3 separate regions of the Homo sapiens genome follow, and regions 1 and 3 are each linked to region 2. The links come from fine-mapping of genetic effects on gene expression. A gene starts in region 2. Each other region holds a variant in brackets. All regions are shown on one strand. Distances are from middle to middle.

The links. PIP is the estimated chance that this variant, and not a neighbour inherited with it, causes the effect.
Region 1: its variant is fine-mapped to the expression of AKT3 in whole blood (TOPMed, PIP 0.91).
Region 3: its variant is fine-mapped to the expression of AKT3 in lung (TOPMed, PIP 0.95).

The regions. Positions count from the first base shown.
Region 1 is chr1:243,501,043-243,509,227 of GRCh38, forward strand. It overlaps AKT3 (AKT serine/threonine kinase 3), which reads right to left. Exons shown (of 14, transcript NM_005465.7): 14 at 1-4,292. The coding sequence ends at 4,207. Among named protein-coding and RNA genes, the nearest start is that of MIR4677, 160 kb to the left of the region's middle. The variant T/G (reference allele first, on the strand shown) is at 3,556.
Region 2 is chr1:243,846,492-243,854,676 of GRCh38, forward strand. It overlaps AKT3 (AKT serine/threonine kinase 3), which reads right to left and starts at 3,752. Exons shown (of 14, transcript NM_005465.7): 1 at 3,549-3,752. RefSeq lists an enhancer at 2,661-3,161.
Region 3 is chr1:243,598,753-243,606,937 of GRCh38, forward strand. All of the region lies in intron 8 of AKT3 (AKT serine/threonine kinase 3), which reads right to left. Among named protein-coding and RNA genes, the nearest start is that of AKT3-IT1, 190 kb to the right of the region's middle. The variant C/T (reference allele first, on the strand shown) is at 4,867.

The DNA of each region.
Region 1 (8,185 bases), 350 kb before region 2:
TGGTTTTGAGAGAAGAGCACATGTGAGAATGCCCTCAAATTTGGCCGTGTGACATACACATACATGCTTGACTCACTCTGGTCCCAAAAGCCATTCCTCTGTCTGGCTTCGTCACAGGAGCAAAGCCAAGTTTCTACAATAGTAGCTTTATGAGGTAAAATCAGAAAAAGGCCCCATCCAGAATGATTCAACGTGAAGTCAGACTGCAGTCCAGCCATCCTACCCATCTACATCACCCACGTCTAAGTTTGTTAATTTGCCATGACATGTTGTTAGAAATACACTCTAAGAAAGGAAATATGCAGAGCAGTACATTATCAGGAAGACGTTAATGAAAAGCTACATTCCTTCAGATTCTGGGTCCAAACCGTGTGTTGTATAGATGATTCGGGTCTGAATGTCCCCAGGGTCTGAGACCTCCTTCATCCCTGGCTTCACAGTACATCCATCCTAAATCCAGTGCTGAGAGGTCAGCGTTTCCCCTCAGAAGCAGCCGTTCATCAAAGTTTGCACAACCGCACTACTGCCATTTCACTGAAGTAAAAATGATCCCCTATGTGTGTGTGTGTGAGCTACAAGGAATTATTTCTATATTTTCCTGTCACATTTTATACAAGGTAGGTTAATACCAGCTGGGGCTATTAAAAATCATGTTTTCATTAAAGAAGATTTAATTTGGGGGGATTATAGAACCACATCCAACAACAATAAACAGAGAAGTAGCAGATTGACATAGTGCTTTATTTAAGCTGTCTGTACGAAGGAAAATCATGTTCATCCCTATCATATACGTGTAAAAATACTAAGGATGTACAGTGTACAAAAACAGTTTCTCCTAGTTATTCCACATCCTTGTGGGTCATATACTTCAGGAAATAGACAGGTTTAGTATGACCAACAGTAATAGTAATACAGTTTCTTGGGTTTATAGTTGCATCTGCTTAAAATCCTTAACCAGATGACTAGATCTTGCGCAGATCTAATGAAAGAACTAGCAAGGTCAAGAAATGTCACAAACTATAAAGCTACAGGGAGGTAATTCAATTACCAATTTAGAGGTTTTCTTTTTATTTAAATAAATACTTTACATTTCATGCTTGCCTGTAATGCACTACCAGGAGCAAGATAAGGAAATTCTACTGTAGACAGTACAAACAGTAGCAGCAAAGTGTGTATGTTGAGGTGTAATAGAGAGACCCTGCAGTTAGTAAGGAAGGCCCTTACTTTTGTACTCTAGGAGAAGCAAGTGGCCCCTGCAAGAACAGTCAGCTTTAAGAAGCTGGAAATCAGGGATGGGAAATGGAAAACAATACTTGAATAATGCTATGTAATTAGTGTAGAAAGCAAAGCTGAGCGCGACCCTGCCAACCATCTAAGCAGAAATGGCCAATTTCCTCCAAGATGGCTGCATTATGACAAGAAGTCAAGCTTCATGACAGTTAGTATGGGCTGGAGTCTGCAAAGTCTGAACTGTATTCTCATAGAATGATTCCAGGTTTCAGGGTGTTCCACCTGCCAGAACCCAAAACTACAACTATGGGCGACACAAGGGAAGTTTTAGAAATCTCCCTCTACACGCATTTCTGGTTTTCTATTATTCCTCCATGGCAGCTGACAGATCTGGAAGTGAAAATAGGGGATTCTCAAAATCAAAGCCAAGAAGACACCTTGTGTGACACCAATGGAGTCTCAGAGGGTGGAATAGAAGTGACTGAGCCCCAGGCATGGCTGGGAACTGAGAGCCAGTGTGAGGAGTGGCCCGCCTGGGGCAATGTCAGTGCCAGTCATTAATCTTTAAGAAGTGTCCTTGGCCAAGGTCATGGGAATCACTTTAAGATTTGCGGGAGAAAAAACCAAAACAACAAAAAGCTGTGTGCTTAGTGTTCGGTGTCATGCTTTCCCTCTAGAGGAGTAAGTGCTCTGAACATCAGCCAGTCTCAGCTTTCTGCTCTTCCTCTCACCTGTTTCTTTCTTATATAATGGATGCAAGACAACTTAAAGAACATACCTTCTAGTCTACTTTTTTGTCAAAATGAAACATTCAACATAATTCCAAGTGAAAAAAAAAAGATTAGCTATGTGTGTAAGTAAGAATGAACTACCATTTACTGTAACTTCCTACTCAATACTAAGGATGAACTTCACTCAGGTAGAAATATGAAAAAGAAGGATAACGTTGATGTCTGAATATGTCTTAGCTGCCTTAGTAAAATGCCCTTTAACCCCCGTCAGTCCCAGTGGCCCACCCACTGCCAGCAGTGGTTTCATAGCTATAAATCCACACTTCCAGCGTCAAGAGGCTAAGACATCTGCATATGAATATGATTCATCCTACTTAGAAAGTCACTTGCTCTTTCATACAATGCAATCATAATACTACGTCATGCTGTAGTCTTCCGTTTGGGAGCTGTCAGAGTTTAACTAAAATACATTTCCATGATCACTCCGCGGAGTAGGATGGCCTTCTGCTTGCCGCAAGAGTGGCCCCCAGCCCCTAGGACTTCACAGGCTGCTTTGGAAATTGTCAGCTCCTAGCACCAAAGGGTTTAATCTGAAGATCATCATTAATGAAGGAGAAAGATGAGGTTTGCATACATGCCCCCTTTCAGTGAGAAATGTTGGAATCTGGGGGACATGAGTATATACAGAAAAAGAAAAGCTGGAGGTGTTCTCTTTTTTTGTTGTTTTTTCCCTGATGGCTTAATTCAGTGATAAATGTACCATGATCCCAAGAAACACACCAGGTTCTTAGCCTTCACTGCCCATTTCCTAAATACTCAAGATGTGTTCATTTTGCCACGTAAAGATCATTTCTTATCTTCACTCAGGTCTCAATTTTCTTCATTACTTTTTGTTGCCAGGTCATCATAACGTTTCAAATTCTTAAATGAGCAAACGTCAACAGCTATTTGTTTCATTAACCCCTTGGCATGCATAGTTGGGGATTTTCTCATTTTCAGTACCAAGGGGTTAAATGGCAGCATCTCTTCTCCCAAAGCCAAATTCTAACCAATATATTCCATTTCAGAGCCTTATCATTTTTTTTAACAGAGGAGAAAAAGTGCATGATTCTCATCAGCGTGTACAATCCTTGCACATGGGTCAAAAGTAACTGCAGTAAGTCTATTTTATATAAGTTGGAGCTGCGTTTGCTAACATGACATACAATTCTCATCACTAAAAAATAAATACTACTGCAATATAAACAAAATCATAAAAGGACATTCAAAGTTTCAACATCTGAGAAAAAGCTAATTCACGTAGAACTGAAAGTAAAAAATTAAATAAGGCAAACACCTGTTTACCTTGGTGTAGAAATTTTGGTGAAAAGCAGTATCATTATACCTGTCTACATTCTTCAGCCATCAGAGGTGATAAATGTCAAGAAGGAAAAAAGGTTTCCAAGCACAGGGGAAAGATGCTCTCTGGCTCAAATTGTTTCATAAGACCCTTTAAGTGACCTTGACTGTGCATATGCCTTCAGTTCTTGGTAGAACAGTGTTCACTTGCTCATGATTGCCCGTGAAGTCTCGACATCCACATGTGATATGGGCT[T/G]CTTCTACAGTATCCACCAGGAATTTAAAAAAAAAAAATTATATATATATATATATATCCCAACAGTTGTTCAGTCCTTCTACCAAATGCTTCCTAATCAATTCCAGCCACAGCTTAGTGATATATGCCTACTTCACGCACGGATCTGATGTGCTTTACATATGCACGCCACCACCCTTCCACAATTGCTTGTTCTGAATTTATAAACTAAATCTTCTTAGTCTAGTTAGTTTTTCTCTTCTAGAAAGTTAAAAAATGTACCTAGAATCAGTGTATCTCATTTAGCCTTCACTGAGGGAAAAACTAAAAGATCAAAAGATGATAATTGGTGCACAAATGAACAATGGTGGGCTCATGACTTCCAAAGGTTGGAAAATTACTTCTTAAAGTTGCTATAATAGTAAGACAGTAGCAGCAACAGCATGAGACCTTAGACTGAGATACAATTTCATGCAAAAACAAAAACTGGAGTGTATTTGCGTGTATGTGTGTTTTCATGAGGGTGAAAGGTGGCGAGGGGTGAGGACCCTTGGCTGGTCTGGGATGTCGGAAGGTGCCCCTGCTATGTGTAAGAGCTAGGACTGGTGATGTCCAGGAATCATTTTCAGTAATAAATTGAAGATGACAGTGAAGTAGCAGAATGAAAGAGACTTATTCTCGTCCACTTGCAGAGTAGGAAAATTGAGGGAAATGCGGCCGCCTCTCATTGTCCATGCAGTCCATACCATCCTCATCATCTGTGGGCAGGAAACATCTATTTTAATTTTACACATTCATTTTTTGCAACATTATCTCTAGTCTATGTTTTTTAAACTCTGAACATAGGAAAGATGAACAGAGGCAATAGCTCCCATAAACTTGTGTTCATCAATAAGCTGTAGAGTAATTATACTTCAAAAATCATCTGATTTTCATAAATACATAGTCTATGAAGAAATAATACTATAGAATCATCTCTAAGACATCAAAATTTCAAGACTCAATGAAACAGTGAAAAAAATGGTATTGAAGAAAACAGAAGTTTTTAAGAAGGAGCAGTCTTCAGTAACCTTTCATTTCATGTAACCACATATATCAAAACTGCAAGTCAGTGAAATCCACAGCATCCAAAGTCTGTATAGAATTCATCATCGAATGTCTTCAAGTGCTTATATTTTTTCTTTGTGATGCTTTAAGTGCAACTGCAAAATAAAGCTTCTTATGAAATTTCATTCAACATCTAGCATCTGGCTTAACTCACCTTTCCCAATTTCCCTATGATAAAACTTTAGCATGAAGGGACTAAGTGAAAGAAAAAGAGGGAAGGATGTCAACATCTGAGTCCTAGCTCATCAGGAAACAATGGAAGAGACTTGAAAGGCATCAAAACAGGCCGCTGACAATCACAGTGTTCCTCCTGTCAGCTTTCCTGGTTTCCTGTATTTCAAAGATCACAGATGATCAGCACCCTGTTCTCATAAATGTCCTGTGATGACAGTCCTGTGCTGTTGGAAGCTCTTCCTGGTATGTGGCCACGTGGTCAGCCACTCAGTCAACATGCGCTCCCACGCATCTGCTCTGGGCTGAGCACCCGTCAGGCCCAAGGACCGCAGAACTTTGAACAAAGTCCCAAGGGCCCCCTGGCCTCACAGTCTCCTGGGGGAGGTGCTCCATTTTAAATCCCCCGTGCTTGCCTCTAAGCTTGTTTAATCATATGCTGTCCTGCAATGGAAATCAGTGAATCTTTCCAATACTCAACCCTTTTCTCTTCAAGCAAAATAATTCGATGTCCTCAAACCCATATAGGAAGTACATTACCAATTTTTTTGAATATTCTAACCTCTCCAGGGAGCATCCGCTGGATGTGGGTGTAAACAAAGAAAGCATACAGGCCAGATCCCACTGCACTGAGGCTCTGACTCTGTCACTCCGAAGAGGAGGGGGCTCTGCCTTTGTCTGAAGAATAAACACTTCCATTCTTGTATCACTGTTTTTCTTTTCTGTATCCCACTCTTAATGCAGAAGATTCTAGAAATGGGATCAAGCTGGCATTAGCCAAAATTTCTGACCCCTAATGTACCAGAAGATATCCTCGTATTAGGTGAGAACTGATCCATCAAGAAGCATTTGTGGCTCCCTGCTCTGTGTAAGACACTGAACTCGGAGGCCCTCTCTTCTTCTGCAAATAGACCACTGTAACTGCAGTCAGCATTTCTAGAAGGTATTGAGATTTGGGGAAATCTCTACCTCCTTATAAAGTTATTGGTTCCAATATTTGTACCAAGCAAGTCACACACATCTTTTAGATCAAATACCTTCAGCAGTATTTTTAGCTACAGTAAAAACGGAAGGAGCTGGGAATGATGGTGTACCCGTGGTTGAGCCCCAGAGTATAAAAACTCTCTAGAGAATACGGGCAGCTAAAACCTTAATGTTCAGATTCTGACATGAGCCAATCACATTTCAAATAAACAATTTTCCTCACCAACAGCTTTATTTTACTCAGTGTTTCTGCACAGCAAACCTGCAGCTGGCTCTGGACAGCAGTGGGGAGCCTGGTGCTTGTCCTGCTCAGCCAGGAAGGGCAGGAGCTGCCTGGACTCCTGGGGCCATGGCCAGGACTCATTCCAGCCCGGCGAGGTTCAGCACCCAGGTTAGCCAGATGCTCAACAGGGGCAGGTGCTAGACACCCTTTTGGAAGAGGAGGGACTCTTGCTGGTGTCAGCTAAGAATTGAGAGACAGCCTTCATTCTGTCACTTCAGTAACACATTCATCACAATTCTGAATCTAGGAAATTTCACAGATATCCCTGAGGGCCCCAATCCTTGATATTCTTTAAAGCCAATGATCTCCCTCCATCATTCCTGCCCCTTTCTGTTGTCAGGCTTGGAAACAATGAGGCGTGAACATCTGATCATGGCCCTAAAAGAGCTGAGAGCCTGGGCAGGGGCTGCGGTGGGAGGGGAGCTGGAGGAAGTGGCAGCTGACTCTGAGTCGGAGCCTGTCAATGTACACAAGTTAGTTCCTGCTGTGAGAGGCTGTGCATAGGGAATAGTGATGATAATGAACATGAACTATGTTTTTCAAAAACACTTATCTGGAAAAAGAAGACAATGATCAACTCTACTTGCTACATCCCTTGAATCCCTGCATCCAAGGAACATCAGTTGCCTGATTTTCTTAGAACATTTAACAAATGGCATTATATGGCAGTAAAAGCGACCAGATCTCAAAGAAACCCTCTTTTTCTGTAAGAGGAAGGAGGAGGACCATCAATGGCGATAACGAAAGATGACACATTCCCAAATCTGTTCCATTATTAACGCCAGTGAGGACAATCTGGCATGTCACTGCAGCTGTTTGTAGAAAATGGAACATTTTGCCTTTCTAACTGCTGATTTGTTCTAAACAATAACTGTATTCTGTTTTATACAAGCAAGGTGGCAAGTGGGAAGACAATTGCTAACGAATGGTACTACCCTGGACTTTTATCAACAAAACCTCTGTGTGTTAGCACTTAGGGAGCTGCAACGGTTTCTTACCAGTTAAACTATTCAAAGCTGCAAGAAAAAGGTTATGTTGAATGTAATCACCGTTCAAGGTTTCAGTGATTCTCATTTTATCTGCTCCTTAAGGGAATCTAGGATGTATCCAGGAACTGTCAAACTAAAAATACTGCCCCGTTGCCCTAGAAGAACCCAGAAGCTGCAGTTAACCACCATCAAGGCTGCTCCCCTAAGACAGGAAGCCCAGGGCCCCATGGCCCCCAGTGCTGAGCGCTGCGCTCTGCTGAGCCACACAGACAGCAGGAGAGGCTGCTGAACAGAGGTGCCTGCAGATGCGTCGATGCTAGTCTTTGCCTGGGCATACTCTGCTGAGCTCTTCCGTCTGACTTTCCTTGCTACAGAGGTCCTGAATAGGGAAAAACACAGCAAGTCCATAGCGCCCTCCCCACCCCTCAATTGCGGTGTGCCCTGTCAGAAACAGATGACATTGCTGGGCTCTCGTTTCCGTACTGTCCAGGGCCCAGGAGCAGGGCAGGACCACACCCCATTTCTGACACCCACAAAAGCCAGACTTTTTTTTTTTTTTTTTTTTTTTTTTAAAAGACAGAGTCTTGCTCTGTCACCCAGACTGGAGGGCAATGTTGTGATCTCAGCTCAGTGCAGCTTCTGCCTCCCGGGTTCAAGCGATCCTCCTGCCTCAGCCTCCCGAGTGGCTGGAATCACAGGAATGCACCACCACGTCTGGCTAATTTTTGTATTTTTTTTTGTAGAGAGGGGGTTTCACCATGTTGGCCAGGCTAGTCTCAGACTCCTCCTGACCTCAAGTGATCCACCCGCCTTGGCCTCCCAAAGTGCTGGGATTACAGGTGTGCACCACTGCGCCTAGACAAAAGCCAGACTTTTGTGGTCCTACAATTGCAGGTGGATTTTGATAACCATCTTGAAAGTTACTACAATGTACAGGCTTCCTAGGTATCTCTGTCTCAATCTAGAAGTGAACCTATTATCATTTAAAGACACCAAGGTTGTAGGGCTTTTACAGCATGATCCATGTCTGAAATGACACATGTTATTTAAGAACAGAGGTGCTGTCAGTGGTAAAATATGACATGCCAGGAAAAACATTCTTGATGGCTTTTATATT
Region 2 (8,185 bases):
AACTAAAAAACACATCAACAAGTCAAGAAGCATATATTAATTTTATCTACCCATTAGTATTCAAAGATTACTTGGCAGAGAAAATGAGTTTACATCTAATTTGATTAAAGACTATGATGCTATAATAAAATCTGTAAACATTTGAGTTATTTAATTTGGCATTTTAAACAAATGAAAGGTGATGTTAATGGGCCAGTCAATACACTTTTATTAACTTGATGCTATGGAAATTATTGTACCAAATTTTGCAAATTTAGAATTATCACTGTTAACTGTAATAATAGGTACAAACAAGAAAAACACTAGAAGTGTTGCAGAATTAGGAAAGTTTAAATAAAAGGTATTTTTAGAATGCCACAATAAGTTTTTCTTATGTGAAAATCACTTTCAAAAGTGTAGCAGGGGTTGTTTGAAAGATTAAATGAATACAGGTAAAGCACATAGAACAGTGCCTGGCACATGGCAACTGCTTACCAGGCATTGGTTAGCATTAACTCTAAACTGAATCTAATCCTATCCCATGTAAAAGATCAGGACAAAGTATTTGTTGTCGGAAGATTCAGGACTATCTTTCCAAAAGAAGGTATGCTGTGTGACCAGGATTTAAAATACTGATGCACATGCTGAAACCTGGAGTAACACAAATCTTCTAACAAAAATTAATTGTATTATTAATGCATATTAACTTAAAAATAAAAATGCCAGTCAGATCACAAGACTGATTTGCTCAAAATGAAAATGGTTTTTCAGTTCTTGCATTTTGTTGCTCAAATCTAAGATAGTTTTAAATTTTTCTTTTTAACACTTCAAAACTTAATCACACTATAAAGACAAGCTCCTATCAAATCATGCTAAGCATCCAACTAACAAGTTGTTAACAGTGATTGCCTTACCTTCCCAAGGACAAATTCTTGAACTAAAAGATATAATAACAAAAGAAAACATAGCTATCTTTTCACGAAAATACACAAAGTTTAAGTAAAGGCTAAACTTCTACAAAATCAATTTGTAAAACAGGTTCCTCATTTTAAAGAAACCCAGATAGCTGGAAATTTCCACTGAATTTTTATGAGAAAATTTCTGATGTTTACATCAAAAGCTACAGCTTAAAAAATAAGTCCTTACTTTCCACAAGTCTCTATGCTAAGTCCATTTGTTCCCTAGTAAGTTTAATCAACACGTTTATTTAGATTTGCAGTGATTCTGAAAACAGATTCCTTCTGACAGTGATTTTCTGAATGAAATGTAAATATTAAAAGTTTTTAATTAAACCAGCACACAGTTCACACTCCAGTATTTGTTAAATATAATCTTATTTAAAATATTTTACAGCTATGAAATTAATTTTTAAAAAGTCCAAAGCAAAACCTTAAAGTACTCTGACATATACAATTTAGAGTCGATGTCAAGATTATTAAGCCAAAAATTAATTTTAAATTGGAAAACAATTCACTCCAGTAATAATTATGGAAAGAAAACCAAATGAATACAAATAATAATTTCACAATTTTTGCAGGATTACTTTGGACTATTTTTAAAACGCTGTAAGAAAACATGCTGCAAAACCACAATGCAAATACACAACTGAAAACTAAAACCCTACATTCATCTAAATTTCAACAGTCTCATTCATGTAATATTTGTCCTCCCTCACTTTAAAACTGGAACCTCAAGCCAATCAAAGATATTGGGGTCAACCCTAGTAAGGAAAACAAAAAGATCTTCAAGTACCATCTCCCTGTAAACTTTCAAGTACTATCTCCTTGGTAAACTTTCCAAGTCAAGATAATGTACTGGCAAAAGGAAAACAATTACAGTCCGGATATATATCTTGCATATAATTGTGCATTAAGTCATAAACCTTGGAAAACTAGTAACTTAGTAATAAGTTGCTATTTTAATTATAAAATATTTTCATGTTTTAGACAACCACCCCCGGAATGTTTGTATTCGTTTATACATATTTTGCAAGTGATACTCAAGTTCTGAAGACTAATCTTCATTTCCTACACCATCTTTATTAGACTCTTCCACCTTCGTTTTCCTAAGTAAATACATAACCTAAACCAATGAGTTTCACTCATTTGTCAGCTTCAACCACTGACAAAACCCAGTGGTTGCCTAGTGATGTATAGTTCTACTAAAAGACATATATGACCATGCTTTACCAAATACGGAACACATGTCTAAACTGTTGAGACAACTGCCAATGTATTAACTACAAAAAGCCATTATTTTTTACTTTAGCCTCAACTAAAATCAAAGTGTGAACACTTTATTATGGCTAGAAATTACCCAATATAGATGCATAGGTTTCACTGTTGACTTTCTATTTGGAAACTTCATCAATTGCAAACTACCAGGCTTTCAACCAAAATGCCACATTGGTGAAATGAGTTGGTTTTATTTTCATAACAACATTATTTTGATGGAAGAAATGTGAGCATCCCAGCTTTGACTTGTGGGTAAGCATTTCCTCTGCTTTCAGAACATAAACAGTAAATACCGGTATTGGAAAAACCTGGCCCCAACGAGATTCTTTATCTCTAGGCTAACTGTAGATTCCCGGGAAATCCCAAACAAGGGATGGTGACCCCGCCTCGGCGTCAGGGTCAACACAGCAACCAGCTAGGCTTCAACTTTGGGCTCTGAAGGGCCCCACCGGCATCATGGCTGATGCGGACCGATGCGCCGGAGGAGGTGGACAAGGAAGAGGCTGGTCTGTTTACTTGCAGCCAGAGCTGCCGCCGCCGCCAGCAGCGACAGCATCACTGGATCAGCCAAACCCAGCATCTTCCGCACATTTCTATTCTTAGCACACAACTCCCAAGCGGATCAAAACCCCACTACTATTAAAAACACAGACAAGCACGTTACCCACCTCCCACACACACACCCCCCCCCCCACCCCACCAGTGCCGTCTTTTCCTGCGCGCCAGTGGCGGGGAAGGGTGGGGGAAGGAAGGAGACCCCGGGGACGCCTGTGCATCCTCGCCTTCACCCCACCCCACGCGCAGACAGCCTCAGCGCCAGGGCGCGCGGCAGACGGCTCCCTCCCCCCAACCCAAACACACTGACACCGGCGCTCCACGCGTTATATAACCTCGCCGCCGCCCCCGGTCCAGGCGGGCGCCCCCTCCCCACGCCGCGCGGCCCGGGCGGGGAGGGGCGAGGGGAAGGAGCGAGAGTTGCGCAGACAGCAGGCGCCGGGCCGGGGCAGCCCAGACACAGACGGTACCGCTAGGCCGGGAACACCCCTCCCCCGGCCCGCTGCGCACCGCCGCCCCCCAGCTTTCCCCGGAAAGCGGGGGGTGTCGGTGTCAACCGCGCTGGGCATCCCCCGGCCTCCACACCCACACCCGAAGCCTCCGGTGACCCAGCCCCCGCCCACGCCCCCGGCGCGGTGACAACCCAGAAGCCCCCGCCTCACCCCACCCCGCCGCCATCCCCCGCCTGAGGGAGGCAGGGAGGGCGGACCGGGGCCCGGGGCCCGGAGGGAGTGGAGGCCAGGCGGGGAGGGGGCTAGAGTTGGGGGCGGTGGCTGTTACCTGCAACGGCGGCGGCGGCGGTGGCGGCCCCGCAGCTGCTCGGGCGGCGGCGGAGGATGGAGCCGGGGGGGGGCGGGGGGAGGAGAGGGGGCGACTCGGGGGTCCCCCCTCCCTCCTCCTCCCCTCCTGTCCTCCCCCCACCCCACAGAGCCTCTGGCCTCCTGGAGCCCGGTGCGGCCGGCGGGAGGGCAAGCGAAGGGCTGCAGGGGAGGGAGGGAGGGAGCCGGCCGGGCCGGGCCGCGGAGCTGGAGCGGGAGGCGGCGGCGGCGGCGGCGGCGGCGGGAGGGGGAGGGAGGAGAGAGGGCGGCGGCGGGGAGAGGAGGAGGCGGAGACTCTACATGGGAATCGGATATCGGCTACAAATTCATCACCAGAAAACACCGCTCGGGCGGGGGCCGGGTCACGCCGGCGGGGCGGCGGCTCTGGGCCCCGGGGCGCGCCCGGCGCGGGGAGGGGTTCTGCGGCCTCCTCCCGGGCTGCGCCTCGCTGAGGGGACCCCCCGCCGCCTCCCCGCCCCCTCCTTCCTCCCGCTCGGGGCCGCCGCCGATCGGTTCTCGCCGTCGCCGCGGGGCTTGTTGTTGACTTTGAGGAAAACTCCTGACGTCAGGGGCTGGCTCTCGGCGACTGGCGGGAGCGGCTTCCCCGCGTCCCCGGCCCTGCCCGCCGCCTCTGCTCCCCTCCCTGCCCGGCCCTCGTCCTCAGGCTTCCCCGCGCCCCCAAACCAGCGGTGCCCCGCGCCCCCTCTCCTCTCGCGAGAACATCCCCCTAGCCAGCCAGAGCCGGGAGCGGGGGCAGTCGCTCCCGGGCGGGAAGTTCTGGGTTTCCCCCTCGCCCGCGTGGCCCTTGGCGGGCACCCGAGGCCCGGGAGCGGAGGCTCCTCGCCCAGCCGCTTCCTCGGCGCATCCGCCCACCCGCCCTGGCCGCGGACGCGCGCGCCGCCAGGCCCCGGGCGTCTCCTCCAGTCCGCCGCGGCCCCTTGGGGAGATGGGCCCGGCGCGAGGGCTCGCACCTGGAAGCCCACGAAGTGGGCGGTGCCCAATGAGGTAGGGACCGGAGAGCGCGGAGCAGTCCAGAAGCCGACCCCACCCCCTGCACCTCGGGGAAGAGGGAACCCGGGTCAGCCCGTAGCAAGAATCATTCCTGACTATCCCAGGAGACCACGGCAGACCAAAAACACCTCTCTGAACAGCCTTCCGCACCGCTCGCTGCAAGCATTCGTCCACACACGGTACACAGATTGCGGGCGGATCGTAATTCACTCTTGAAATCACACCCTTTTTAGGGATATTCGTTTTCAATGACTTTGGGAAAGCCACGAGGTACTACATTTACTACGAAGAGACCGTTTCTTTATTTTGAAGTCAGTGACTCCTGAGACTGCATTGGGGACAACTTTTTTGCACAATGACCATATTTTACCATGCAGCGCACTTCAGAAAATTATAAAAGTTTACAAGTTTTATCGCTTCTGGAAACACCTGGGCAGCATCCCTATTATCCCGCCACGTGGCTCTAGCCTTGTTGATGTACCTGTTACTTTCTCCCACTGCAACATTTTTGTTAATGTCTGTGGCTTCTTTCTGCAGAAGAGTTCCTCCTCCTGACATGCACTTCATTCTCTGCTTTTCTATGTCTTGACAACTCTCTTATGGTAGTCATTTTCTTATACTGTAGCCCCCTGGTATTTATGTACTGTGTGGTATTAATATTTATACTTCCAGGTTCACATCTTTTATGAACTGTGCATCTGTTGGGATTGTGGACAGGAGTAGGAAACCAAATAAAAGGGTTTTTTAAAAAAGTCAGTTTTCTCCGTTTGTAAGGGAAACTTGTCTCCCTGACCACCCTGGAGCAAAATTTGCCATTTTAAGATAACACAGTCCGTCTGAGAGAAAGTCCTGCACCATGCCTTTCCCCTTTTCCCATATTTCCCAGCATGCTATGAGCTGATGAATAAACAGACTTTGTCCTATTTTCGTTGTATCTATAAAATATACATAATGTATTCCCATAATTATCAGACCTCTCACAGTCACTATTGGTAAAATTATTGGGTTACAGGTTTCTTGCTGTAAAACACAAAAATAGGTCATATTTTTATTCCATAGTACCCCAACTTGCTTTTTATTTTTAAGAAAATAGTCCCTTATGACACCAGCACTAAAAAGAGTGTCTGAAACTTTAAATACTTAACTTTTGAGAGTCAGAGTATCCGGAATTACTGAATTACTAGATATCTCTTATCAGTGAGATGTTCATTTGTTCCCAAATTTAACATCAATATATTTACAAGAACTGAATGTGTCTTATGAGCCATACTACCTCAAAATATTTCTCCCAGTCTGGTCAGATTGCATTAAATCTTAGGTGGATTAAACCCTAAAATTCAGTATGTGAGAATGGATTATATACTCTCGGCTTCATGTATTTGAAGAATTATAAGTTTTTATTTCTGTTCAATTTTTGCTTGTGGACTATAGTAGTTTCATAAGTTTCCATAATAAAAGCATGTTTGATTTTGTTATTGAATTACTATTGATTAGGGATATTATTTATTTAAATAACGTTGTTCTTTCTCTTAGACTATGCCGGTATGAATTTGGTAGAATCTGCCGATTGTGGTATGTCGGTACTCCATACAGAGTGTGTGGCAGATTTCTTCTCTATTTTGTTATCACATCCAGTAATATGGAGTGCAGCCAGCATGTTCATCCCTGGGAATGTCCCTCCTAAATTTTGCAAAGAAAGCCTTCATTCTTTATTACACCAAATATTCTTAAGATTAACATTTCTCAGTATTAGTTATTTATTCATTTTAAGAAAAATGTTCATTCTTCTTTACTACCAATGACTAAGTTTGATACTGAGCTATTTCTTGGTACTTCCCCCATTTCTTGGGAGTAACTAAAACTGGAAGGATATTTAGAATTTCAGAGCATCTAATGTCTTAGTCCATTCAGGCTGCTATAACAAAATACCATCAACTAGGTAGCTTATAAAGAACAGAAATTTATTTCTAACAGTTCTGGAGGCTGGGAAGTCCAAGATCATGGCACCAGCAGATTTGGTGTCTAAAGAGGGTTCCGTTTCCTGGTTTGTAGGTGGTGACTTCTTGCTGTGTCTTCACATTTTAGAAAGAGTGAGGGAACTCTCTTGGACCTCTTTTTCTTTTTCTTTGTTTTTTTTTTTTTTTTTTTTTTTTTTTTTTTTTTTTTTTTTAGAGACAGTGTCTCATTCTGTCACCCAGACTGGAGTGCAGTGGCATGATCATAGCTCACTGTAGCCTGGAACTCCTAGGCTCAGGCAACCCTCCTGCCTCAGCCTCCTGAGTAGCTGAGACTACCAGCATGAGTTAATGTTCCCAGCCATCTTGAGCCTCTTTTATAAGGGCACTAATCCCATTCTTGAGGGCTCAAACCCTCATGACTTAATCACCTCCCAAAGGCCCCATCTACTAACACACTTTGGAAGTTAGGATTTCAATCTATGAATTTGGGGAAACACAAAAATTCAGACCAGGGCATCACATAACAAAAATTAAGTTACTGCTCTTCTGTCTTAATAGAAAGGGTGTGTCATCCTAGGAGAGGGCATGGAACAAAGCAGACACAGAATACCTGTTTGTGGAAGAAATACATGTTCTAATGTTCTAATGACGGCTCTAATAAATCTGTGTACTATGTACAGTTTATATAGTATTTTCCTCTTGGGATGTAACGTGATTTATTGGAAAGAACATAAAAGTGCTTTGGAGACTTGCAGACCAGAGTTCAAATCCTCTCTCTGCAGAGTTTGTCTCATCTCAGGCAAGTTACTTAATTTTTCTAAGCCTTATATTTCCTTATTTGTGAAATGGCAGTTACAACTACTTCAACAACTTATGTGAATTAAATTTTATGAAATATTAGTATCTAAAACACAGTGAGTGGTCAGCAAGCTAAGATTCCTTTACCATAAATGTGAATATATTTATGTTAAACTAACAATAGCTGCTACAAACAAATACAAAAATCTATATTGGCACTCTCTGCCACAGTTGGTTCTGAAATAACCACGTTAAGTCTACAGCTGTAATTAGTGAATATATTCTAGATGATTAATAGAACAATTTCTAAAGGAGTATAGCTTAAATTTCTGTTGGTTAAGCCTCCCAATCTGTGATATTTTTCTTACAGCATCCCAAACTGACTAAGGCACACAGTTCATTACAATAGTTATCAGTACTAATTGTCTTTTTCTCCCTTTCCCTGATGTCTGTCTGTCTGTCTGTCTGTTTTTCTGTTTTTTTTTTTTTTTTTAGACAGAGTCTGGCTCTGTCACCAGGCTGGAGTGCAGTGGCATGATCTCGGCTCACTGCAACTCCACCTCTCGGGTTCAAGTGATTCTCCTGCTTCAGCCTCCCGAGTAGCTGGGATTACAGGCGCCTGCCACCACGCCCAGCTAATTTTTGTATTTTTAGTAGAGATGGGGTTTCCCCATGTTGGCCAGGATGGTCTCGATCTCCTGACCTCGTGATCCGCCCACCTCAGCCTCCCAAAGTCCTGATGTCTTTCTTAAGGCACAGGCCAGGTGCCTGTACAAGAACATATGAGCATAGCCAAGGGCCAGATATATCACTAATCTGGTGCTGTGTGAAT
Region 3 (8,185 bases), 250 kb before region 2:
AGGTTCTCCATCATTCTCTCTCATACTACAGCACTCTGTTGCCATTATATTTATTGGGTTTATTTTGTTTTATTATTTTATAATATGCATCTCCTTCTAGAAATCATGACTGTTTTATTCATCCTAGCGAACGCAGTAAGCATTTAATACATACTTTTGATTGAATGAGCTAATCTTATTTGGGGAACATACCTGTTCTTGAAGATTTAGTTCAAATGCACCTTTCCTCCTAAAATCTCCTGTATAGGAGAACATTTGTGGGGATGTTATTTTTATCGTGGTGATGATTTCATGGGTCAAAAGTTATCAGATTGTACACTTTAAATATGTACAAATTATTTATAATTTGTTATTAACTCAGCAAAACTGTTTTAAAGAAAGGGAAACATCTTAAGACAAAATGCAGATTTTCTCACACAAATAAAAGCTAACAAAAGTTACGGCTATCAGACCTGCACTACAAAAACAAATGCTAAAGGAAGTTTTTATGCAAAAGGAAAATGTAATAGATGAAAATGTATACCAACACAAAGGAAAAGAGAACACTTAAAATGACTACTTTATGAATATAAAACATTTTTTCTATTAAAAATTATTTTAAAGATAATTGCTTAAGGCAAAAACAGTGTATTGTAAAGGTTAAAAAATACATGGAAGTAAAATGTCTGAGAACAACTGCACAAAAGACAGAAGGCAGGGAAACAGATGTATGCCTTTTAAGGTTCAGATAGAAGGTAAGAAAATAGACGTATGCTGTTATAAGGTTCTTACAGTACAGGTAAAGTGACACAGCATATTGTTTGAAAGTCTACCGTGATGAGAAAAGATACATATTCTAAACCCTAAAGCTACCACCATAAGAACAAAGAAGCAGAGCTAATCAAACTAAGATTATTTAAACTCATCAAATTACTAATAGAAATTCTTCAACTTTTAATAAAGAGCATCTACGAAAAATCTACAGCTAACAACATGGTTAATGGTGACAGTATGAATGCTTCTGCCCTAAAATTAGGTATAAAGCAAGGATATTTGCTCTTATCCTGCTCTTTAACACTGTTCTAAACATCCTGGATAGTTTAATAAGGCAAGGAAATGTACACATATTAGAAAATAGCAGTAAAACTGTCTTTGTTCTCACCTGACATGATCATCTACATAGAGAAATCCAATATATTTACAATAAAAGACTACTAAAACTAATATTAGTATGGCTAATAAGTAAACATCAACTGTATGTCTATATATTAGCAAGAATCAACTACAAATTGAAATTTTTAATAATGACTGATAAACCATTTATAACTTAAAAACATAAAATAATTATAAAGTATCCCTAAGGATAAATTTTTAAAACTTTCAAGACCTGTACACTAAAAACTACATAATATTGTTGAAAGAAATTAAAGACTTAAATAATGGGAAAACATATACCATATTTATGAATCAGAAGACAACACTGTGAAACTGTCAATTCTCCCCAAATTGATCAACAGATTTAACACAATCACAATTAAAATCCAGGAGGCTTTTATGTAGAATTCAACAAGCTTACTCTATAATTTATGTGGAAATGCAAAGGAAATTGGATAGCAAAACCAAATTTAAAAAGAATATCAAAATTGAAAGATTCAAGCTGCCTGATTTTAACACTTATTCTAAAGTAAGTGTGTGGCATAGTGAAGACAGTGTGGTATAGGTTTCAGGATAGATATAGACCAATACAACAGAATGCAGAGTCCAGAAATCGACCCACACATATATGACTGATTTTTGACAAGGGTACCAAATCATTCAATGGGAGAAAGACAGTCTTTTCAACAAATATGCTGGAACAGTTAGATATCACTTTGCAAGAAACAAATGAAACATGACCCTTATGTAGCAGTATACATTAAAATTAACTTGAAATGGCTCATAGACCTAAATGCAAGAGCTAAAACTATTAACACTTCTAGAAGAAAGCATAAAAGAAAATCTCCCCGACCTGCCACCACCCAACAGGTCTAGCTTTGACTTTAGAAAAAAATCTTAACAAACTTCAGTTAGAAAAAGATGTTTTAAAAACAAAATGTACAAATCATAAGAGAAAATAATCAATGAATTGTGTTTCCTCTAATTTAGAAGTCTGCCCTTCATACTGGTTGGAAAGCCTATCAGTGGTTTTCAGGGTGAGAGTGAGGGGAGAGAATTGACTTTAAAGAGACATGCGAGGCTCTGTTGTGAAAGAAACATTCTAGATCATGATTGTGGTGATGGGAAACTGCTTTATACAGCTGTCAAAACTCACTAAATTGTACAGTCAAAATTGATTAATTTTACTGAATGCTAACTATGCATTAAAATGCTGATTACAATAGATTACAACAAAAGTGTATTTTGGAACAATTTCCCATTATGAAATGAAAAGACAAACTATAAAATGGGAGAAAATATTTATAAAATATATATATGATAAAGCCCTTACATGAAATAAATAAATCTGACAACTCAATATTAAGACAACAACCTAATTTTTAAAACAGACAAAAGATTTTAAGATACTTCAAAAAAGATGATGTATAAATGGCAAATCAGAATAAGAAAAGAAGTTCAATATCATTAGTTATTTGAGAAATTCAAATTGAAGCTAAAAAATACCACTATACATCCACCAGAATGAGTAAAATTTAAAAAGACTACCATGCCAAGTGTGGTGATGTTGTCAAGTAACATCCTGGGAATGCAAAATGGTATGGCTGATTTTGAAAAGAGTCTGCAGTTTTTAATGAAGTTGATCATAACAAATGACACAGAAATTGCATTTCTATGTATTTACCCAAGAAGATTAAAAATATATATTCACACACAGATTTGTACTGGAATATTCACGAGCTTTTATTCTAATAGGCCCAAAATGTAAAGAACCCAAACGTCTATCCAGGGGCAACTATATAAACATATGACTGTACATCACACAACGGAGCAAAGCCATAAAAAGAAACAAACTACTGATATATGGAACAGTATCTATAAATTTTAAAAGTATTATGCTAAGTGAAAAATGGAGAACACAAAAGCCTGTAAGTATGTTTTCAGATTATAGTTTTTGATATTTAAATACTGTTTTGTGTCACTGCCCTCTTTTTCCTCCTCAGGGTTTCCAATTATACATATGTTGCTTCTTCTGTTTTCCCTCCCTTGAAATACCCACTCTGTGGTAAGCCAGCCTTTGTGTAAGAAGTTTGACTACCTTGAAATGGCCATGCTCTGCCATAACCACATGGAAAGGAATCATGTAAATACCCAGATGCCTGGCAGGCCCCTGCAGTTCCAGCCACTTGATCTGAGATTTTAGATTTGTAAGCAAGCATGTTACATGTTGAGGCTTGTAATAACATCTCCTAATAACTAAATTCAATGCATTCAATTACATTTAATGCAGTGAGATACTGGTTTAACCATTCATTTTTTAAAAATGTCTTTGAATTATGAAATTATATACTAAAAATGCTTCCCGACTTTACATTGCCTTTAGATGCTAATGTAAACATTGTAATGCATCCTTCTTGACTTGGGAATTTTGAAAAAGCATTGGGTGAAAAACAAAATTCTGATACAACCTACATAATATATTAATAACTAAAATAGTTAGCAAAGAAATTAGCTTGTCAGACACCTGACAATAAAGATGTTTATATACCTGAAAACTTTGTAAAATTTTAAAAATCATCACTATGAATATGAAATGATAATTAAATTAATTTAAAAATCACCCAGATCACACCTCCGTAAATTAGTAAGGAGAACTAGAATACTGACTACTGGTGCTTTTGTCTTATGTGAATTTAAAATGAGATAATTTTGGTTCACTGATAACAAAATGCCAGCCAAATGAGAAATCTGAATAAGCATGAGAATCTCAAGAATGGCAAGAACCTGAAAGCCGTATTGCAAAAAAATCAAATACATGTTATCAAAGAAATTAATATAGAGTTTACAATGAACTAAGTATGGACAAAAATAGTAGTACATAACTGAAACTGTTAGCTTCATTACAACCTACATAAAGAAAATAGAGGAATGTGAAGAATTTATCAGATGAATAGCATTTCTACACAATGATTTTCCTTTACTCCCCTAATGAATCTTTAACTTCAGGAAACTTCAGACTTGAGAGAGATTTGCAGAGGTCCAACAAATAAGCCTGAAATAAATGAAGCTATGAGTAAGATTTTGGAAACAAGTCCTAAGTAGAGACTTCCTAAACCAAAGAAAACAAAAACACCTCCTTAGTCAATTTTGTCTACTTTATTCTCCCAGGATATTTTTCTGCTTCTCATGTAAATTTAGTAACATTTAAGGAATAAAAAGAGAGCTGCCTGGATATATTAGCAGTGTGATTGGTCATATTATTAGAGAGATTTTACAATCAGTTCTACAAATGCCCCACTGAAATTGCACTGAACTCACTCTTACAACCTTGTTCTACTGGGCTCCAAACCAACCCTTTTACATTCTGTACTACAGCCAAGGTGCATACCTTGTACCAAACCAGAAAAGGAAGAATCCCTGGTAGTCTCCATAGGAACTATTAGATGGCAAATCCAATGGACAATTCTCAGTTATCATTGTACAGTATTTAATATACTCTGTTGTACCTAATCTCTCCTTAACTTCTAAGGCTTCTCTTGTCTGGCTCCTCCTGCCCAGGATCCTCCTTAGGCTTCTCTCTGCCTCTACACCTGTGCACTAGTCTCACTGCATCTACAGCTGTGTCTACAGCATGCCTTACTCTGGCATTTCCAGGCACCATCCTTGGCCACTGATGTTCTAACTGTACATACTTTCCTCACATTGGATATTTCCTCACTTCCTGGGTTTTAA[C/T]ACTGCTCATGATGCCTATTTGTATCTCTGATTTAACTCTCCCCACTCCTTGGCTGCCACACTAGGTGCCTCAAATATAGCATGATCTGCTTAAGAACTCATTCTTCTCCCTGTGTTTTCTATTTTTATAAATACTCCAGTATCCACAATTCCCCAAGCAGCAAACAGGAAATCATATGATACTTCTCTGCATATTTATTCATTAAATCCTGGTGATTCTAATAACTAAATATTACTAGAATTTGCTTCCTTCTAACACTGCTTCAATTAATAATCTTTTTTTTTTTTTTTTTTGAGATGGAGTTTTGCTCTTGTTGCCCAGGCTGGAGCACAATGGTGCAATCTAGGCTCACTGCAATCTCCACCTCCCAGGTTCAAGCAATTCTCCTGCCTCAGCCTCCCAAGTAGCTGGGATTACAGGCATGCGCCACCAGGCCTGGCTAATTTTGTATTTTTAGTACAGACGGGGTTTCTCCATGTTGGTCAGGCTGGTCTCAAACTCCTGGCCTCAGGTGATCCACCCACCTCAGCCTCCCATAGTGCTGAGATTCCAAGCATGAGCCACCACATCCGACAACCTTATCATTTTTATAAGTGAATTACTGAAAACCTTCTAACTGCAGCAACCTCCCAAGTATTTTCCTTGCTTCCACTTTTGTCCTCTCTACTTCAACCTCTATACTGCCAAGTATTCTTTCTAAACATTTCCCCCAAAGAAATTCTTCCATGATGCTCCACTGCCTTCATCTAAATGACTTGAGAGTGAAGATCTGTCTTAATGTGATTCTGACTACCTGTGCAGACTCTCTGGCTTTCCTCTGCAGAACTCTATGCATTATCCACACTGTGCTATATTCGGTGGGTGGGGGAACCTGTCTGCTCCTGTGTACTCTACACATGCCATTTTACCTGTGTAGGAATGCTCTCCTTCCCAACCTTAGTGATATAATGTATAGTTATTCTTACGTCTTAGCCTAGCAACCACTTTTTAAGAAGAGTTTCCTACTCTGGCACCCTTTGCTTTCCTTTCCTCTGCTCCTCAGGTTCATTAAAGTGCTCATTCTCTCCATGCACAGTAACCAGTATTATCAGAGCAACCATGTCACTGCAGTGTATACAAGTATTTTCTCATCTATCTCCCCAGTAAGTCACTCATCAAAGGAAAAATAGTATGTTTTCCTTATTTATGAATCTTCTGAGGTCTAGCCCACAGAAGTTGCTCATTATTTAATAGATGAATGATAATGTACTAGATTATAAAGTTAATCCATAAGGTATCAAAAATAATCAAATCACTCCCAAACATTCCTTAGAACGGTATTACACTGGAGACCAACATACTGTCATCTCTCGACATAGTTAAACCCAGGACAGTTTTCTATCTTTGGTACAATAATATAGTCTTTTTTCTTTTATTTTCTTTAGAGACAGGGTCTCACTCTGTTGCCCACGCTGGAGTGCAGTAGCACAACCATGGCTCACTATAACCCTGAGTTCCTCGGCTCAAGTGAACTTCCCACCTCAGCTTTCCTGATTAATTTACTAGGACTACAGGTACACATCACCATACATGGCTAACTTTTTTTTTTTTTTGACACGGGATCTCACCATGTTCGCCAGGCTGGTCTCAAACTCCTGGCCTCAAGCAATCCTCCTATCTCAGCTGCCCAAAGCACCAGAATTACAGGCATGAGCCACCAGGCCTGGCCAGAAAATAGTTTCTTTAAATGAACACCTGCAGTTACAATGCACTCAATGACATTTTATGTAAGTTTTGTATTTTAAAACACCAGAGTTTATATTCCATGAAGCTCTATGCATGGAAAGTAGGAAGTAACAAGGAGTAAAGAATAGCAAATTTATATCTCTCATCCTAAGGTCACTCTGTAAATACACTCATTGAGAAATTGAGAAAAAGAGCAGAATAATCACATCATTTAAATCAACTTGTCTATCTCAGCTATATCTTATTGAGCCCACTTCTTTGAATTCATATAAATTACATGCAACTATGATGAAATTCCATTGTACCAATACGACCGTAAGAAGTTAGGGCTGATTTTTCACAGCCAACATTTCTTTCACAATTCACTTTCATCAAAAATTTTTAGTGCTCCAAATACAGTCATGCATTACTTAACAACTGGGATATGGCCTGAGAAACTTGCTGGTAGGCAGATATGGTTTGGCTGTGTTCCCACCCAAATCTCATCTTGAACTGTAGTTCCCATAATCCCAATGTGTTGTGGGAGGGATCCACTGGAAGGTAATTGAATCACAGGGCTGGTTATCTCCATGCTGTTCTGCTGATAGTGAGTGAGTTCTGATGAAATCTGATGGTTTTATAAGGGGCTTTTCCTCCTTTGCTTAGCACTTCTCTCTCCTGCTCCTATGTGAAGAAGGACATGTTTGCTTCCCCTTTCACCACGATTGTAGGTTTCCTAAGGTCTCCCCAGCCCTGCAGAACTGAGTCAATTAAACCTCTTTCCTTTATAAATTACCCAGTCTCGGGCAGTTCACAGCAGCATGAGAACAGAGAATGGACTAATACAGTACATTGGTACCACAGAGAGTGTGGTGCTGCTGTAAAGATACCCAAAAATGTAAAAACAGCTTTCCAACCAGGTAACAGGCAAGGCTGGAACAGTATGGAGGGCTCAAAAGAAGACAGAAAAACGTGAGAAAGTTTGGAACTTCCTAGAGACTTGTTGAATAGCTTTGACCAAAATGCTGACAGTGATATGGACAATAAAGTCCAGGCTGAGGTGGCCTCAGATGAAGACGAGGAACTTACTGGTAAGTGGAGTAAAGGTGACTCTTGCTATGCTTTACCAAAGAGAATGGTGGCATTTTGCCCCTGCCCTAGAGATCTAAGGAACTTTGAACTTGAAGGAGATGATTTGGGGGTATCTGGTGGAGGAAATTTCTAAGTGGCAAAGCATTGAAGAGAACGCGGAGAAGAAAAGTTTGCAAAATTTGCAGCCTGACAATACAATAGAAAAGAAAAACCCATTTTGTGGGGAGAAATTCAAGCCCACTGCAAAAGTTGGCATAAGTAACAAGGAGCCAGATGTTAATCACCAAGACAAAGGAGAAAATGTCTTCAGGGCATTTCAGAGACCTTTGCAGCAGCCCCTCCCATCATAGGCCCAGAGGCCTAGGAGGGAAAAACAGTTTTGTGGGCCAGGGCCAGGGCCCAAAAGCAGGGCCCCCCAACCCGGCTCTGTGCAGCCTTGGGACATGGTGCCCTGCATCCCAACTGCTTCAGTCCCAGCTGTGGCTAAAAGGGACCAATGTACAGCTCAGGCCATTGCTTCAG